Linked DNA regions of Homo sapiens: region 2 is linked to region 1. Evidence: fine-mapped expression QTL. A gene starts in region 1. The other region holds a variant in brackets. All regions are shown on one strand. Distances are from middle to middle. Region 1 holds the start of PXN (paxillin). Region 2 overlaps PXN (paxillin).

What was found.
Region 2: its variant is fine-mapped to the expression of PXN in whole blood (TOPMed, PIP 0.98).

What each region holds. Positions count from the first base shown.
Region 1 is chr12:120,263,207-120,268,573 of GRCh38, forward strand. It overlaps PXN (paxillin), which reads right to left and starts at 2,524. Exons shown (of 15, transcript NM_001385981.1): 1 at 2,411-2,524. The coding sequence starts at 2,423. RefSeq lists silencers at 2,242-2,391, 2,552-2,831.
Region 2 is chr12:120,230,504-120,235,870 of GRCh38, forward strand. All of the region lies in intron 1 of PXN (paxillin), which reads right to left. Among named protein-coding and RNA genes, the nearest start is that of PXN-AS1, 32 kb to the left of the region's middle. RefSeq lists enhancers at 1-68, 510-1,709, 1,189-1,748, 1,749-2,308, 3,429-3,988. The variant C/T (reference allele first, on the strand shown) is at 2,408.

The sequences.
Region 1 (5,367 bases):
AGCTGATGGCAGTGTGCTGAGCCGCCATCCAGACAGCTGACGGGGCCCCAGTGCAAAGGCAAATTCCTCTCCCCTCCTGCACACCCCATTCCTCCCACCCCAGGCTCCGGTCAGTCAGGCGTGGCTTGCCCCTTGGGAGCTCAGGCCAAGGAAGTCGGGCAGCCCGGATGTAAGCAACTGGGAGTCTATGGTAGAAAGCAGTAGAAGTTACAGGTGATCGCCATCACCCAGTGGCAACCCCTCCTTCAAGTGCCCTTGCCTCCTCCCCAGGAAAAAAAGTCTTCTCGGTATACAAGAGCCACAGATCTGGGAGCTAGGAATTGGGCTTCCAGTTATGGTTTTGTCATTTCATGGCTGTGCAGCCTTGGGCAAGAGAATCAGCCTCTCTTCGTCTCGGCTTTCTCAATCTGTAAAAAGGCAGGTGGTCATGACAGCATTGGCTTTAAGGTGGAATCTGATAAAAGGGTTGTTGTGAGGATATCACAAATCGAGGTAGAGGGAAGTACTCCACAAACAGCAATTTAAATCCCTACAATCCCCTCTCCCGTATACAGTACTCTCTTTCCTTTCAGAACTCAGTTTCCTGGCCCTAAATGGAAGACTGTCAGAAGACAGGAATTCCAGATTTCGATGGCGAGCTCTACAAAGACTTTCTCAGTCCTTGAAACAGCACGGGGACTGCCGAGAAGCAACAGAACTGCACCAGCACTTTAGAAACTGTAACTTTGCTCCCAGTTCCCACTGGGAAAGCACTCAGACTCTTAGATCCTGGTTCAAAGAACATCCCCCAGCCTCCTTCCAGCTGAGCTATTTTTATGTGAAAAAAAAAAATACCTGCCTGGAAGCCATGCCAACCTTGAGCACACTGGAAAAATGGGTGCCAAGCCTGACCCAAAGGCAGAACCACGCTTGGCAGCCATCTCACTCTGCAAAACAGGCAGGACCCTACACCAACCCCAGCTCCAGGATCTCAGGGGCACCCTGATCCCAAAAGGAAGCTGGAGGGAAGCAGTCAAGTCCAGCACCTACAAATAGCCAGTCTTAACTTAGTGCCCGGCGCTGCTTGGTAGAGGTCCATCAGTCCTGTCTGCTGAATCTACTCCTCAGAGCCTGGGACAGAGGAAGCATCAGTGGTCACACAAGCCACCCACAGTCCAGAGAGGAAAGACAAGGCTCCTGCAGAGAAGAAACGTTGCCCCCCTCCTCACCTCCCAAGCTCAGGGCCCTCCAGCTACAGGCGTGAAGGGGAGGGAGAGACAGCGAATCCTCCCACTCCTGCGTTCACGCCACCCAAGGCATTCCTAGAACCCTGGCACCAACCCCCTTGGGTTTAGAGTCGGCTTCCAGGAGATACTTTCTTTCCCCTAACACCAGATCAAGACTGGACTGAAAAGAGTAGCCTTGGGGCTCCAATAACAGGAAAACAGTAAAACTCTGTTCTGGGCATCCTGTCCTCTTTCACCTGCGTGGCTTCCAGCAGGGCCTGACGCAGAGAGGGTGGAGGGGACTCTGCTAGCCAGGACACGTTCAGGGATGGTCATACCTTGGGGCCCACCTTCCACCTCATTCCCCTGGCATTTCACCAGAATCTAGGGGTGGGGAGAGAATCAGGACTCCCAAATTACCGTTCTAGACTTAGATACCATGGTAGACGGACTGGTCTGTGAATTGAGGGGCTGGTCCACAGAGCGGGGAGGTCAGTGAGAGAAAATGAGTGATGGGTCCTTGAAACGGGGTGACCAGATTTGAAGTGGGGGGTCAGAAGAGCAGGCAGACTGGGAAACTTGTCTTTGAAATGGGGGTGTGGTCATCACACGCTCATCTCTAGCTTTTGCATCTGACTTGTGAAATGAAAGGGGTGGGCTCCGAGGGGTTATCCCTGAAGGGGGGTGCTAGTCTGTGAAGTGGGGGGCGGCCCTGGAGGGACGGGGAGCAGGTCGAGGAAATGAGGGAGCAGCCCATGAGATCGGGCAGCTGCTCCCCGAGTTGGGCGGTCGATCTGTGAGGTGGGGGTGGGGAGAGGTCTGCGAGGTGAGGGTCCCGTAGCTGACGAGGTGGTCTGCCGCAGGAAGTCTCGTCCCTGCAGCGGACGGGGTGGGTCCCTGAGGGGCGGGCTGGTCCCTGGGGCCCTTCTGGGAGATGGTGATGGGTCCCCGAGGTCGGGGGTCCAGAGGTGAAGCCGTCCCAGACGGGGGGTCGCTGCTGTGCGGTCGGTGCCGGGGCCGGCCTGGCCCGAGACTAAGGCCCGGTTAGGGATCCCAGCCCCGCGGAGCCCCGGCCGGCAGGGACAGGAGCTGAGGCCGGGGCCGCCGAGGGTGGGATCCCGCGGCCCCTGCCGCTCGCTGGCGCCCTCCTGGCCCCAAGCTGCGCGCCTCTCGCCTCCTCCTCCCTCGGCCTCCCGCTCACTCACCGAGGTCGTCCATGGCCGGACCACGGGCGCCGGCTCAGGGTCGCGCTAGCTGCCCGTCCCGGGGCCGCTCGTCTATGCCCCGCAACTTTTCCGCCGCGAGCCTCGGCCCGGAACGGAACGCGCCGCCGCCGCGCGCGCCCGCGCCCGCGCCCGCCGCGCGCCCCGCCCCCGGCCGCCCCCTGTGCACGCGCGCCCCGCCCCCGGACACCCCCGCGAGCTTGCTGGCCCCGCCCCCTGCGCACGCTGGTCCCGCCCCCGCCAAGAGCCCGGGCAGTGGGCGTCGCTGGGCGGGGCGGTGGCGCCCCCTCGCGGCTAAGCGGGCAGGTGGGCGGCTCCCAGGCCTCCAGCCACTCCCATCCATCTTTCTGTCCCTCTCAAAGTCACTTGCCTGACCCTGCGGATGACAAATCCGTCCACAGTCAGCCATGTGTCTGTGCATTCGTCAGCCACTGGGTCATCACATGCCTGTCCACTGGACAGTCAGTTTTGCCCACCTGTCCGTCTGTCACCTGTAGGTCACCACCCAGGAGGACCATAAATCAGTACCAGGCAAGGCCCGGAGCCCGTGGCTGACCTTTCCTGGGGTCGTCCTCTGGATCAATGGCAGTGCAGCTCGCAGTTCACCCTTTCTGGCCCAAACCCAATACCTGTGTGGTTCCATCTCTCTTAATATTACTTCCACACAGCCACCCTCCCTAGACACTTTTCCAAAACTGCATGGGGCAGAGGGGTCCCCAGATTAGACATTAAAGGGAAAACTACAGGAAAGTCACACCCAGTGCTCCCACACACTCGGAAATTGGGTAATAATAACAACTACCATTTATTGAGTGTCTGAATAGACAGACACTATATAGCTATTCTCTAAATTAATCCTCCTAGAGGTACTTCCCTACCCGTTGGGATGGGTGATGGCAGTTTGTGGATTTTATATAAAACTGCTCTGCAAGTACAGCTTCGAGTTCCCCTTGTCCCTCAAGAATCCAGGCCTTCTGGGTCAGATCAGGTCCTCCAGAAAGCAGATGAGATGCTGAGATAAAGCTAGGGGTAATGCCCGTGACAGAGAAGGGGAAATAAGCAGGGTTGGGCAAGGAGACTCAGATCTGACAAACAGGTCAACCCATCAGGGAATTCCAGGACAAAAAAAATGAGAAGTCTCCTTGGGCAGAAGTATCCGGGTTCCAATGCTCCCACCATGTTCAGTCATTTTATAAAGGCAGATCCAAGCAGCTTCTGTGGCTGCCACATTCTCCTATAATAAATTCAAGACCAAAGACTGTTCCTCAAACACTCTATTGCGTGGTTTTCCAGCATCTTGCACATACCTCTATTTTGTTTTAGTTTTTGTGTTTTTGTTTTTGTTTGAGATGGAGTCCCAATCTGTCGCCCAGGTTGGAGTGCAGTGGTGCAATCTCAGCTCACTGCAACCTCCGCCTCCCAGGTTCAAGTGATTCTCCTGCCTCCTGCTGGGATTACAGGCGCATACCACCATGCCTGGCTAATTTTTGTATTTTTAGTAGAGATGGGGTTTCACCATGTTGGCCAGGCTGGTCTTGAACTCCTGATCTCAGGTGATCTCCTGCCTCCTGGTGGGATTACAGGCGTGTACTACCATGCCTGGCTAATTTTTGTATTTTTAGTAGAGACAGGGTTTCACCATGTTGGCCAGGCTGGTCTTGAACTCCTGACTTCAGGTGATCCGCCCCCCTCAGCCTCCCAAAGTGCTGGGATTACAGGTGTGAGCCACCACGCCCAGCCTGTTTTTGTGTTTTTAAGACACAGTCTTGCTTTGTTGCGTAGGCTGGGATGATGAATAAGACTAACATGATGTCTACCTTCTTGAATCTAAAGGTGCACGCAAAAGAGCAAAGTGGTTAGCATGAAGGATGAGTAGCCTCGCCCCACTCCCAGCTGTGTGGAACAGCATGTGCAAAGGTCTGTAGACAAGACATTTAATACTGACCACAAGCCTAGGAGATGAGCATTGTTAGCCCCTTTTACAGCTGGAAGAGTTGAGAGTCAGAGGTTGAATTACTCCAGGTCATACAGCTAATAAGTAAGGAAACTGAGATTTGAACCTGGGGAGGCTTATGCCAAGGCCTGGTTATGAAACGGCTAAGTGAAACTGCTAACAACTTAGACCAACCCCAGGGCATACGCTTGTCCACTTCTCCAAAGGTCTAAAACCTTTCTTTTTCAAAGCTGTGTGGTCTGGAAATGCGAGGCACCCATTGAATGGGCAAGTTTCCCATTGCTATGCAGAGTTCTAAAGAGAACTGAAGCTTCAGAGTTGAGTGCTGGTGCACTCGAACACTCAGGTCCCTGCCAGGGATTTCCTCATGTAAATCATTCCTAAACCCCCATTTCCTCCCTGGCTTCCTTCTTCCCTTGGACTCTCACCCCACAGCAATTAAACTTGGTGTCTAGTTCAGGCTGCTACAACAAAATACTGTAGACCGAGTGACTTATAAACAACAGAAATTATTTTTTCACAGTTTTGGAGGCTGAAAGTTCAAGATCAGGGTGCCAGCACAGTCAGGTTCTGGTGAGGGCCCTCTTCTGGGTTGCAGACTGTTGACTTTTTGTACCCTCACACGGCTCAAAGAGGGTCCCTTTAATAAAGGCACTAACTAATCTCTTTCATGAGGGCCCTGCCCTCATGACCTAATCACCTGTCAGGCCTCACCTCCTAACACTATCGAATTGAGATTAGATTTCAACATATGAATTTTCAAGGATATGAACATTCAGTCCCTTGCATTTGATAAAATCAATCAGGTTTTTTCATTCTTCCTAAAGATTAAACGACATTGACAGAGCAGATGGACAACCCTGCTGACTTCTTGCTAGTGGTTCATCTTGGGCAATTTACTCTGTGCCTCAGTTTCTTCCCCTATAGAAAGGTTAATAGTAGCTACCTCTCAGAGTCCTCATAGGACTAAATAAGAAACGACACA
Region 2 (5,367 bases), 33 kb before region 1:
GGCCCTTCCTAAGGAAGGAGCTATGTAAACAGCAGGACCAGCTCAGGGATGGTCTCATCTCAGCCCCTTTGGTGAGACTCTTCCAGATTAGGAAGGAAAACAGAACGGGAAGGCGGGTCTCCCCCCTCCCCCTGGCTCCAAGTTCCCCTCCCCTCCCCCAGCCCAGAGCACATGAGCAGTTAGAGCAGAGGTAATCTAATCCGCAGCGGGGTGCTTTCACTCGGTGAGTAAGTCCCCAGGAATGGTGAGCTGGGTATATTTATCCTGATAACCGTCTGTCCTCAGTAAGGGCCAATCCACAATTAGGCCAGATCCACTCTGCCCCACCCACCCCCAGCCCAGGGACCTAGGGCCTGGACACTGACTAGGAACTCAGTCTCCTTGAGGGGCCTTCCCTGCCAATTTGGGTTCTTGTCAACTGTCTCCTCTCCAAGAATTAAGCTCCAGAGAGCAGGGGCCTTGTCGGTCTTGTTCGATGCCATATCCCCAGCAGCTAGAATGAATGGCTGAATGACAGAGGGGCTGTGAAGAGGAGGAGGATGGGGAAGCAGCAGTGAGCAGAGCAAACAGCCAGTGCGGAGGAGGGGAGCCAGGATGCCCTGATCCCAGGCCCAGCGGATGAGTGGGGGCCCCTCAGCGGATCCTCTAACCTCTCTGGATGTCTTCTCTATCAAGAAAATGGGCAGAACCCGATTTGTCCCCATTCCTAGTAGCATGCTCTGAGGAGATAATACAATTATGGGTGAGATTTATATAGCACCTTTGAGCTCTTCCGAGTTAGTCTAAATCCAAGATTCTGCTATTATCTGAATCCCAGACAGGAACTGCTCTGCTAAGAGGATGGATGAGAAACGATCAATACCATAGTGTCATTTAAATATTTAATAGCCATGCCTGGAGGTTACAAAGACTCAGCCACCAATTCTCCTCCGCTGACTCATGCCTCACTCAACAGGAACTGCATTTTACCCTTACAGCCCTGAAGGAAGTGTGGGCTGGGGGGTGACACACAGGAAGCCAGGGGAGAAGGCCCAGGAGTCTTCCAGTCAGCCGCCAGGGGAGGAGGGGGTGGTCATTTGGATGAAGTGGTTCTTCCCCAGGCTTCCTACAGGCCTAGCTTAGGAGGGTGGCTTCCTGTATGCTGAGGAGCTCTTCCTTGCAGAGGGTGACACAATATGAGTGTGCAGACAGACTGGCTTTATTGGCTGCCTGGCTTGTGCCCAAGGTCACAGGGCACAGGTAACCAGAGACCTGAGAAAATAATGGCTGCAAGGCAACTCCAGCAGTCACCCTGAGCTCCAGGCAGAAGACCAACTGTGCCAGGCCCATCTGCACCAGGCACACACAAGGCCCACCCATCAGGCTCCTGGCTGCAGCCACTTCCCCATCAAATTGGGCTCCAGGAGCTTAAGCAACAGCAGGTGAGACAAGGCTGCCCAGGTTGACTCTGAGCACTTCTATGCATCTGCCTTAGGCTACAGACACAGGAGTTCAGGCCAGGCTGGCCAAACACCAGAGTCTTTCTCTTCTTTTTTTCTTTTTTTGAGACAAGTCTTGTTCTGCCACTCAGGCTAGAGGCCTGATCACAGCTCATTGCAGCCTAGAATTCTTGGGCTCAAGGGATCTTCCTGCCTCAGCCTCCCGAGTAGCTAGGACTAAAAGCACATGCCACCACACTAGGCTTTTAAAAACTTTTTTGTAGAGACAGGGTCTCACTATGTTGCCCAAGCTGGTCTTGAACTCCTGGCCTCAAGCCATCTTCCTGCCTGGGCCTTCCCAAAGTGCTGAGATTACAGACAGGAGCCACCATGCCCATCCCCAGAGTCTCTTTCATATTGTAAATAACTCATCTCTCCTGTCCAGAATCAGTGGGCCCTCCCTCCTCCAGAGGTCCCAGAACATTGTGGACACATTTCATTGGTCAGATGTCATCCACCTCTTTAGGTCGCCCAGAGATGCTAGACCTTTTCAGGTCAAGTCCAGGGCCCCATTCCAGGCCCAACTCACAGCTCCTTCAATGGGTAAAACCCAGATTCACATACAAAAAAGACAGCCTCAAACCCAGGAGACTCATGGGCTGGAAAGGTTCTCAGCTGTTCCAAATCGACCCCAGCCCATTCCTGCAATCTGGGCTCTTCCAGGCAAGTTGATCTGTTGCAGAGCAGGGCGGCTCCTTGGGCCTCTCACCCCTGCTAATCACCAACAGAGGTTAGGAGGGGCTCAAAGTGAGTCATCGTCCCACAGAGACCCGAACAAAAAGTTCAAAAGTTTGCCTGTTCCTGAGATGAGCTGCAGTTTTTTTGCGATTTTTGTGGATTTCATAGCATTAGTTACCCACTCTTTGCTAATCAGGTTCTCACTAACCAGCCAGCACCTTCCCCTTTTTTCAGGCAGCAAGGTCATTTCC[C/T]GAAGTCAGCTCTCGCTTGCCTGACTTCCCCAGTTCTCTTTTCTAAGTCCCTTTAATAGCTCCCACATTTAGCTGGTCACTAAGTCACATCAATTCTTCCTTCGCGGGGCCTCTCCCTGTCATCACTTGCCTCCCTTTCCTTTCATCACCACAGCCAACCACTTGGACTAGCATTCGAATCCATGCTCAGTGCCTACCTGAACTTGACTGCAGCCCCCTGCCCTGGGTTCTCCCAATCTAACGCTTCCTGCACACACCATCGGCCCGAACTTCTTGGCACCCAGCCTTTTTGGGGCATGCCTCACACTTCACTCTTGCTTCTCCCCCTAGACTGCAGGTCCTCTGTGGGCAAGAACATCCTCCTGCTCCTGAATCCCCACAGCATGGATACCCTCATAGGCCTCCTTTTTTTTTGAAATGGAGTCTTGCTCTGTCAACCAGGCTGGAGTGCAGTGGCATGATCTCAGCTCACTGCAGCCTCCACCTCCCGGGTTCAAATGATCCTCCTGCCTCAGTCTCCCAAGTAGCTGGAACTACAGGTACACACCACACCTGGCTAATTTTTGTATTTTCTTAGTAGAGTCGAAGTTTCACATTGTTGGACAGGCTTGTCTCGAACTCCTGACTTCAAGTGATCCACCCACCTCGGCATTCCAAAGTGCTGGGATTACAAGCATAAGCCACTGTGCCCGGCCCTCACAGGCCTCTTAGAGGGGCTTGAATGAATGTGTGCAGAGCAAGGGGTGGAGTTATAATACTCACCCACTGTTGCCCTCTCTGCCTATAAAACAAGGTCAGAAACCCTGGGGATGGCATTCTGTTCTTGACCCTCTCAGAATATGGCCCCAAACTAACCTTCACTGCCTCCTTGGTCCCCCTCACTGCAACCCATGTCTCCAGCCAAACTGGACTCCCCGCTTCCCTTTTTGCCAGCGTGCCTTTCTTCACAATACTGAATGTGTCCCACCACTACCTCTATCATCATTCACCTGGTTTGAGCCTCTCGCACAAGGATATCCATACCCCCAGGGGACAGATGGAAGCCAGGGGTACAGGAAGCCACCTCAGGATAAACCCAGAACACTCTGAGGATCAAATGTACTCAGGGGCAAGAAATGTAAATCATTGTCTTAAAACAAACAAGGCTACATTATGGAGTCAAATGCAAAATGCAAGTGAAATCGTAAGATAAAAAGAGAGGCTTCAAGGCCTGCATGGTGGCTTATGCTTGTAATCCCAGCACTTTGGGAGGCCGAGACAGGGAGATTGCTTGAGGCCAGGAGTTCGAAACCATGTTGGCCTGGCCAACATGGTGAAACCTCATCTCTACTCTACTAAAAATACAAAATTTAGTTGAGCATGGTGGTGCATGCCTGTAATCCCAGCCTCTTGGGAGGCTGAGGCAGGAGAATGGCTTAAACCCAGGAGGCAGAAGTTGCAGTGAACAGAGATTGCGCCACTGCACTCCAGCCTGGGCGACAGAGTAAGACTCTGTCTCAAAAAAACAAAACAAAAAAAACAGATAAGATTTTGCTCTTGGGGACTTTGGCAAACAATTTTAAGCAGCACCACAAAGCCCCCACTGTCCACACATAAAACCACCCCTGCCCATATCACAGATTTGGCTGGTCTGCTGTCGTTGGGAGCTAGGATGGTCACACAGTTCTTTGGACACCCTCTGGGCATCCCACCTGCATGGCAGTGTGGTAGAGTGGAAGGAATGGGCCATCTAACAGTGAGGAGGATGGGTTCAAATCCGCCACTCACTAGCCTGGGTGACCAGTGACTAGATAATTCTGGGCTTTAGTTTACTCAGGCACCTCATAGCGCACAGTGAGTAATGGATGAAAAAGAATGTGAGAGCCATCCTGGTGGCTGGGATAAAATAAACGTAAGCCTCCCACTCTGACACACAGGAGACACTCAGTCAATAGATCCACATCACTGATTTTCATCTCCCTTAAGGCCAGCAGGGGGAGGAGTCGGAGCCAGGGACTGCAGCCAGGGATCCTGGGAGCTGTGACAGGTTGTCACTAACTCAGCCTTCTTGCTGAGCAAACCACTGACCTCACCCTTTGTGTCTCGGGTTCATTCCAAGTCCTCCTTGGAGAACATCAGCTGAGCCCAGGCGCCTCCAACTCACTGCCTAGCAAGGACAGAGGCAAGCGAGGGAAGCTGCAGGGCCCCAACGCCTCCACCCCCACCCCATCCCTACTGCCTGCCGGGAAGTCACAGCTGTCTGAGAGGCCTGTGGCTTTGAACCCAGAATCGCAACAATAGAAGGAACTGCCCAAGCTCCATGGTAGCTCCCAGAGGAACCCAGGAGAGAGCAGCCTCTGCTCCTGCCACGGAAGCTCTGAGCCCAGCAGAGTGCCAAAAAGGGATCCAAAGACGGGGCTGCGAGGCTAGAAAGCAGCTCAGGAGGGGGTGAGGAGTGGAACAACCCTTCCTGAGCATCTACCAGGAGCCCAGCCTTGCAGCCCCATTTGTTGCCAGGGATTAGAATGCAGACACCCAGAGCCGCCCCATAAGGCCCCACGAGGACTGCGCTGCCTGACTGCAGAGATCACCCATGTTCTTCCCAGGATGCCCCACAAGGAGAGGAATGATCGCTTTCAGCAGCTGTCCGTCCTCTGCTCGTCACCACTCTCCACTCCCACAACACACATCCCCAGAGCCCCCAGAGGAATCCAAAAAGGCGGGCCTGCTGGGTTCCGCTCTACTGCTGCCCACTCCAAGTCTCCTGTTCTCTTTTCTTTCTGCCTCCTCCTCACCCTCTGCCTCAGGAGGGGTCTTGAGCCACAGAGGAGCCCCTAGTGGTGGTACAGAGAGCTCAAGAATTCTGAGAAGGCTGGTGCACTCCATGTTCTGGTCTAACTTGTTGATGTGCAAGGTCGACGCGCACAAGTGTTTTCCCCCTGTGCTACGCTGCTTGTGGTCCCATCTGAACCTCAGGGTGC